Linked DNA regions of Homo sapiens. The protein of the gene in region 1 interacts with the protein of each later gene in a pairwise test. Each region holds a gene or a part of one and is shown in the gene's direction. Other genes may lie near its edges.

What was found.
Region 2: the proteins of ZNF587B (region 1) and SMAD9 interact in a two-hybrid assay, tested with the Homo sapiens proteins (one large-scale study listed by BioGRID).

Annotation. Positions count from the first base shown.
Region 1 is NC_000019.10:57,828,789-57,833,118, forward strand, and holds the start of ZNF587B (zinc finger protein 587B), read left to right. Parts: upstream 1-1,510; 5' UTR 1,511-1,740; coding exon 1,741-1,776; intron 1,777-4,330. UniProt on the Homo sapiens protein: May be involved in transcriptional regulation.
Region 2 is NC_000013.11:36,844,074-36,847,304, reverse strand, and holds the end of SMAD9 (mothers against decapentaplegic homolog 9), read left to right. Parts: 3' UTR 1-2,474; downstream 2,475-3,231. UniProt on the Homo sapiens protein: Transcriptional modulator activated by BMP (bone morphogenetic proteins) type 1 receptor kinase. SMAD9 is a receptor-regulated SMAD (R-SMAD).

The DNA of each region.
Region 1 (4,330 bases):
CCAGGCTGGAGTGCAGTGGCACGATCTCGGCTTACCGCAGCTTCAAACTCCTGAGCTCAAGCGATTCTCCCTCCTTCAGGCTCCCTAACCCTAACCCCAACCTTGGGGCAGCTGGGACCACTGGCCTGCCTGACCTCACCCCACTAATATTTTTTATTTTTTGCAGAGACAGGATATGGGGAAAAGAAATCAGATTGTTACTGTGTCTATGTAGAAAAGGAAGCCATAAGAAACTCCATTTTGATCTGTATTAAGAAAAATTGTTCTGCTTTGAGATGCTGTTAATCTGTAACTTTAGCCCCAACCCTGTGCTCACAGAAACGTACTGTATTGAATCAAGGTTTAATGGATTTAGGGCTGTGCAGCATGTGCCTTGTTAACAATATGTTTGCAGGCAGTATGCTTGGTAAAAGTCATCGCCATTCTCCATTCTCTATTAACCAGGGACACAATGCACTGCGGAAAGCTGCAGGGACCTCTGCCTGAGAAAGCCTGGGTATTGTCCAAGGTTTCCCCCACTGAGACAGCCTGAGATATGGCCTCATGGGAAAGGAAAGACCTTACATCCCCCAGCCGGACACCCTTAAAGGGTCTGTGCTGAGGAGGAGGAGTGAAAGAGGGAGGCCTCTTTGCAGTTGAGATAAGAGTAAGGCTTCTGTCTCCTGCTCATTCCTGGGAATGGAATGTCATGGTGTAAAGCCAACCATTCCCATTCGTTGTATTCTGAAATAGGAGAAAACTACCCTGTGGCTAGAAGCGAGATATGCTGGCAGCAATACTGCTCTGTTGCTCTTTGCTACACTGAGATGTTTGTTTAAAGTGAAACATAAATCTGGCCTATGTGCACATCCACGCACAGTACCTTTCATTGAACTTATTCATGATACAGATTCCTTTGCTCACGTGTTTCCCTGCTGACCTTCTCCCCACCATCACCCTGTTGCCCTGCCACACTCCCCTCACCAAGAGAGTAAAAATAATGATCAATAAATACTGAGGGAACTCAGAGACCGGCGCCGGTGAAGGTCCTCACATGCTGAATGTGCCAGTCCCCTGGGCCCACTATTCTTTCTCTATACTTTTTCTCTGTGTCTAATTTCTTTTCTCAGTCTCTCGTCTCCACCTGATGAGAGATACCCATAGGTATGGAGGGGCAGGCCCCCTTCAAACAGGATTTTGCTTTGTTGCTCAGGCTAATCTCTAACTCTTGGCCTCAAATGATCCTTCTGACTTGGCCTCCCAAACTGGTGGAATTACAGGAGCTAGCCACCATACCAGTCAGGGCGCATATCTTAAGGATACTCCTGAGGTGGAGCTGGGCTTTTCCTGCAGAACCGCCTCTGGGAATTGTGCCCTTTACCCTCCTTGTTACCTAGGGAACTACATTACCCAGAAAACTCCGCATGGAATGACAGAGTGGAAGAGCCATGGGGGCTCAGAATAAAGGCATTTCCTGTGTGCACGTGACAATGGGTCCGGACTTCCGGCGCCCTCTGGTGGCGGCCATTTTGATTGGTGTTGGGTTTATTTGTCGGAGAGGCTCCTGAGCGCTAGGTCGGCACTGCGGTGACTGAACCCAGAAGGCGGAGAACAGTTGTCCTCTGCTGCACAGAGGCGACTCTGGAGCTCTGTGACGGCGCCAAGCGTGACCCACCCCTGGGCCAGGATAGGGACCGTCATGCCCATATCTCCTGGCTGGTCACCCTCTCCTCCCAACCCTGCTTTAAACCACGTGGTTCGATGGCGGTGGTGGCCACGCTGAGGCTCTCTGCTCAGGTAATTGTGGTGCCTTCCATGCCCTCAGGTCACCTCATCATCACCCAAAAGCCTGTAGTCTTGCAAGGAAGAGTCTTTAAGGTGGCAGAGCCATAGGCAGCAGATGCTGAGTTTTTATTAGGAGTGACTGTCAGGACAGCCCTTTTGAGCTGCTGAAGGCCTAATCTTTTATAGTCACTGTACCTGAGCGAGTTAGAGAAAACGCCACACTTTGAGACGAATTAAGAGTCCGTTTATTTAAAAAAAAATCCGTTTATTTAGCCGGCGGCCAAGAGATGGGTAACGCTCAAAGTTCTCGCGGCCCCAAAGAAGGGGCTAGATTTTCTTTTATACTTTGGTTTAGAAAGGGGAGGGGGGGTCTAGTTAAAACAATTTTACAGAAGTAAAGTAGGCAAGAAAAGTTAAAAGGATAAATGGTTACAGGAAAGTAAACAGTTCCAGGTGCAGGGGCTTTAAGACTATTAGAAGGTGATAGATGGGGGGCTTTGGGCGTTATCAATCAGACGAATTCCTGGGAACTGCGGATATAGCTCGCCACAGTATCTTATCAGTTAATTGCATTCTTGGATGTGCTGGGAGTCAGCTTGCACAAGTTAAGTCCTTGAGGAAGGGGCTGCCAGTGAAAGAGCCAAGATGGAGTCTGTCTGGCTCTCTTATGTAAGGGAGAGTCAATTCAGGTGGAAACAAGTCTAGGTGATTAAAGGAAAGGGAGAATCTAAAAACAGGGTTAGTAAAAACAAGGTTGGGCATTACATCACAGAATCCTCTAGTGAGAACTGATAGTGGAACAGTGTGCTCGTTGGTGACCTTACCTCGTTAGATGCAGTCTTTATTTTTTATTTTTTTGAGACGGAGTTTCACTCTTGTTGCCCAGGCTGGATGCAATGGCGTGATCTCGGCTCACCGCAATCTCCGCCTCCTGGGTTCAAGCGATTCTCCTGCCTCAGCCTCCCGAGTAGGTGTCATTACAGGCATGCGCCACTGCACCTGGCTAATTTTTTGTATGTTTAGTAGAGATGGAGTTTCTCCATGTAGGTCAGGCTGGTCTCGAACACCTGATCTCAGGTGATTCACCTGCCTCGGCCTCCCAAAGTGCTGGGGTTACAGGCGCGAGCCACCGAGCCCAGCTTATTTTATTTATTTATTTTTTTTTTTTTTGAGACAGAGTCTCAGTCTGTCACCCAGCCTGGAGTACAGTGGCGTGATCTCGGCTCACTGCAACCTCCGCCTGCCGGGTTCAAGCGATTCTCCTGCTTCAGCCTCCCAAGTAGCTGGGATTACAGACACCCGCCACCATGCCCGGCTAATTTTTTGTATTTTTAGTAGAGACGGGGTTTCGCCATGTTGCCTAGCCTGGTTTCGAACTCCCGAGCTCAGGCAATACGCTCGCCTCGGCCTCCGAAAGTGCTGGGATTACAGACGTGAGCCACCGTGCCTGGCTGTCTTTATTTTTTTATTTGTTTACTAAACAAAACATCTTACCCTTTATAGCAGAGTGCCCTGTGAAATACAAATTGTCTTTTTCTTTTTGTTTTTTTTTGAGACAGAGTCTCGCTCTATCGCCCAGACTGGAGCGCAGTGGCACGATCTCGGCTCACTGCAAGCTCCACCTCCCGGGTTCATGCCATTCTCCTGCCTCAGCCTCCCGAGTAGCTGGGACTACAGGCATGCACTACTATGCCCGGCTTATTTTTGCATTTGTAGTAGAGACGGGGTTCCGCCATGTTGGCCAGAATGGTCTCAATCTCTTGACATTGTGATCCGCCCGCCTTGGCCTCCCAAAGTGTTGGGATTACAGGCGTGAGCCACTGTGCCCGGCCAATTCTATTTAATTATTTTAATTTCTTTGCTGAATTTATCTGATAGAATTCTGAATTTTTTCTCCGTGTTTGTCTTGAATTTCTTTGAATTTCCTCAAAATAGCTATCTTGAATTATCTGTCTGAAAGGTCACGTATCTCTGTTTCTCCAGGATTCGTCTTTGGTGCTTTATTTAGTTTGTTTGGTGAGGTCACGTTTTCCTGGATGGTGTTGATGCTTGTAGATATTCGTCAGTGTCTGGGCATTAAACAGTTAGGTGTTTATTGTGGTCTTCACAGTCTGGGCTCATTTGTACCTGTCCTTCTTAGGAAGAGTTTCCAGGTATTTGAAAGGACCCGGGTGTTGTGATCTAAGCTGAATCTACTTTAGCGGGAACCCCACACTCAGTAATGCTGTGACTCTTGCAGACTCAGAGAGCTGTACCACCTTTGTGGTCTTGAATAAGATCTGAAAGATTTCCCTTGATTAACATAACAGGTAGAGACTCTTGTTGGGTCTTCCCTCACTTTGTCCCAGCATGTCTCTGTCAGTGCTGAAGTGCCTGAAACTGGGGGTTGGGACAGAAGCACCCCTTTAGCTACCACCACTGGGACTGTGCTGGGTGAGAGCTGAAGCCAGCACAGCACTGGGTTTCACCCAAGGCTCCTGTGACCACTACATGGCTATCGCCTGTGTTCCCTCAAGGCCCTAGCCCTGTACAGTCAGCAGGTGGCAAAGCCAGACAGGCTTATGTC
Region 2 (3,231 bases), on another chromosome or scaffold:
GATGGCAGTTATGCTTGTAACAGACAGCACTTCAGTAATCCAAGAAGTTTCTTCATTTATACATTTTATCTCAACTCTTTCTAGCATTAGTGCACATGGTAGTTTTTCTAATTAAATTGTATTCAAGGTAGAAATGATCATGTGAGAAAGATATATGATTGAGCTACTACTGTCACCTCTTACAGTTACTAGTGTTAGCTAATAGAAACTTTCATATATACACATAGAAAAGAATTATTACATTTTACATTGAAAAATGTAATATATGGCCCATGTAGTGTATAGAAAAATCTGTAGTTTATTGGTTCATCAACTATGTATTGTGCACCTACCTATGGGTGTCAGGTACAATGTTAGGTACTGTAGAATCAAATGTAAATAAGAGACAGTCCCAGCCCTCAGGGAGCCGAGAACCTAATAGTGAATCTGTTTGTACAGACATCTTCATGTTTCAGAACTTTTAAAACAAAACAAAATAATGTAATCTATCATCTTTTGCTTGAAAGAATGTGATTGATTTCTTATCTCTGTTTTGAAATTATTTCCTTACTCTTCTGCAAAGTCAGGTAATGGATTCCTTGTATAAATGCTACTTTTCTTCCATGTCTCAAAGTTGTTTTTTTTCCTCCCCTTTCTTCCCTGTTTTCCAATAATTCTCCATGTCCCCTTTTCTTAGAAAAGGCATTAATATGGTGAATCTTGTATGGGAACCATTCCATGGGAGAACTTCAACACAGTTTTTGCTCCAGAGATCAAACATAGCTTTCGTGATCTCTCTACCAGCTATCTAACTTATCCTCTGGTAATCTTTTTTTTTTTTTTTTTTTTTTTGAGATGGAGTCTCGCTGTGTCACCAGGCCAGAGTGCAGTGGCGTGATCTTGGCTCACTGCAACCTCTGCCTCCCGGGTTCGAGTGATTCTCCTGCCTCAGCCTCCCAAGTAGTTGGGACTACAGGCTACCACGCCCAGCTAATTTTTATATTTTTAGTAGAGACGGGGTTTCACCATGGTAGCCAGAATGGTCTCTATCTCTTGACCTTGTGATCCGCCCGCCTCAGCCTCCCAAAGTGCTGGGATTACAGGCGTGAGCCACTGCGCCCGGCTTCCTCTGGTAATCTTACACCTTTACAGAATTAATCTAAACTGGTGGCTCATAAATGACATTAAAAACAAAAAAAAAATCTGGATGCAGTGGCTCATTCCTATAGTCCCAGCACTTTGGGAGGCCAAGGCGGGAGGATCATCTGAGCCCAGGAGTTTGGGGCTGTAGTGAACTATGATCATACAACTTCATTCTAGCCTGGGTGACAAAGTGACACCCTGTCTCTAAACAAAAATCAAGAAACAAAAAACTTGTATTTCCCTGCAGCTTTGGGAAGCCAGAACACAATATTGCAGTGAATCTGAATTTTCTGTGACAAATAAATTATTAAATTGGCACATATGATCATCACCAGTCATGTCTCATCAAAAGCCTTTATTATGATGCTTGTACATTTTGAAGAATTTAGAATTAATGAGAAGTTAACCCTTTAGTCATTGTAACACAATCATATTTTAATCAGCTTTTTCTTTTGCTACCAAGAGTTTCAAAAAATAAATGCAGTATTTGATTTCAGGCTGCTAAATGGGCTCATTTAGCATTCATTCCTTGATGTAGACATTAAAAAAAAAACTGAATAGCATTCTTTCCAGGATAACTAATAAAGCAGACATGCTAAGCCTATAAATACATCAGCACTGCAGCACACGTTTAAGGTTGCCACGGACAAGGATCACACAATAGAGAACACTGTAGTAACATTTCGGTCTGCTCACAAGACCCAGAACATTGATCAGTTTTTGTTGTTGGTTTATTATTTTTCTGTTAAAAAATTGTGAAAAGTTTGTTTTAGCTAGATGATATTTTAATAGCTGCGAGTGCTTTGGAACTATAAAGATGTCACTACTTAACACATATACCTTATGTTTTGTTTTGTTTTGTTTTACACTCAGTATAAATCAGGAGAAGTTAGCCAACCATCTAGCATTTAGAATCCTCTTTTTTATTGTCTTCTAAGGATATGGATGTTCCCATAACAGCAACAAAACAGCAACAAAAACATTTCATAAATATCACTTGATAGACTGTAAGCACCTGCTTAACTTTGTGTCCCAAATATTTAGTGTGTATATATATATATATATATACACACACACACACATATATATTCAACAAATAAAGCAAAATATAACATGCATTTCACATTTTGTCTTTCCCTGTTACGATTTTAATAGCAGAACTGTATGACAAGTTTAGGTGATCCTAGCATATGTTAAATTCAAATTAATGTAAAACAGATTAACAACAACAAAGAAACTGTCTATTTGAGTGAAGTCATGCTTTCTATTATAATAACTTGGCTTCGGTTATCCATCAAATGCACACTTATACTGTTATCTGATTGTTTATAATAAAGAATACTGTACTTATATGTCTTTTGGCTCATTTTTCCTGTAAACCTCATAGAAGATTCACTGTATGTGGGTCTGCAGCTCCTTAAGTCAATTAATTTTAAACCATTCTATTTTGAAAATGGGATGTTAAATTCCACATGCTATAGAGAAATTAGGTAGTGGTTTTGAATTAAACACCTTAGAATAACCGTCATGAAGTATAGTTCTTGAAGATACTTCACAGTAACTTTAGAAAGGATATATGTAGAACCTTTTTCTGGATAGTAGCAAATACGTGATATTGCAGTATATAGGAAAGAATGAGCACTTTCATTATTGTAAACATCTGTACATTGCTACAGATTGCCTATTAGAAAGGTGCTAAAAGGCAACTGGTGAGGGAAAACTAAGATGAAATCCAAAGAAATATGAACACATCATCTAAAAATGTAAATTCTCAATTCCTTTCATCTAAATTTCCTTCTAATCTTAAAAAGGAAGGGGAAACTCTATTACCTATAAGCAGCTTTCTTATTTACTTGATCAGAGTTGTCAATTTTTTTAACGAAATGGAGCTCTGTATTCAAAAAAAGTGTTTTGTGGAACTCCAAAATAAAAACACATGAAAGATATGCCTGTTTAGATCCTGGTGGGGACCGTGAAGCCTCCAGTTTACACTGTAAGTTTCTGGAGAGCAGTGATTGTGTCTTGTTTGTCTCCCATGGTTCCCGACCCTGTGCTTGCATCTAATATTTGGTATTGGCATTTCAAACACGAATACACATTCTTTAAACA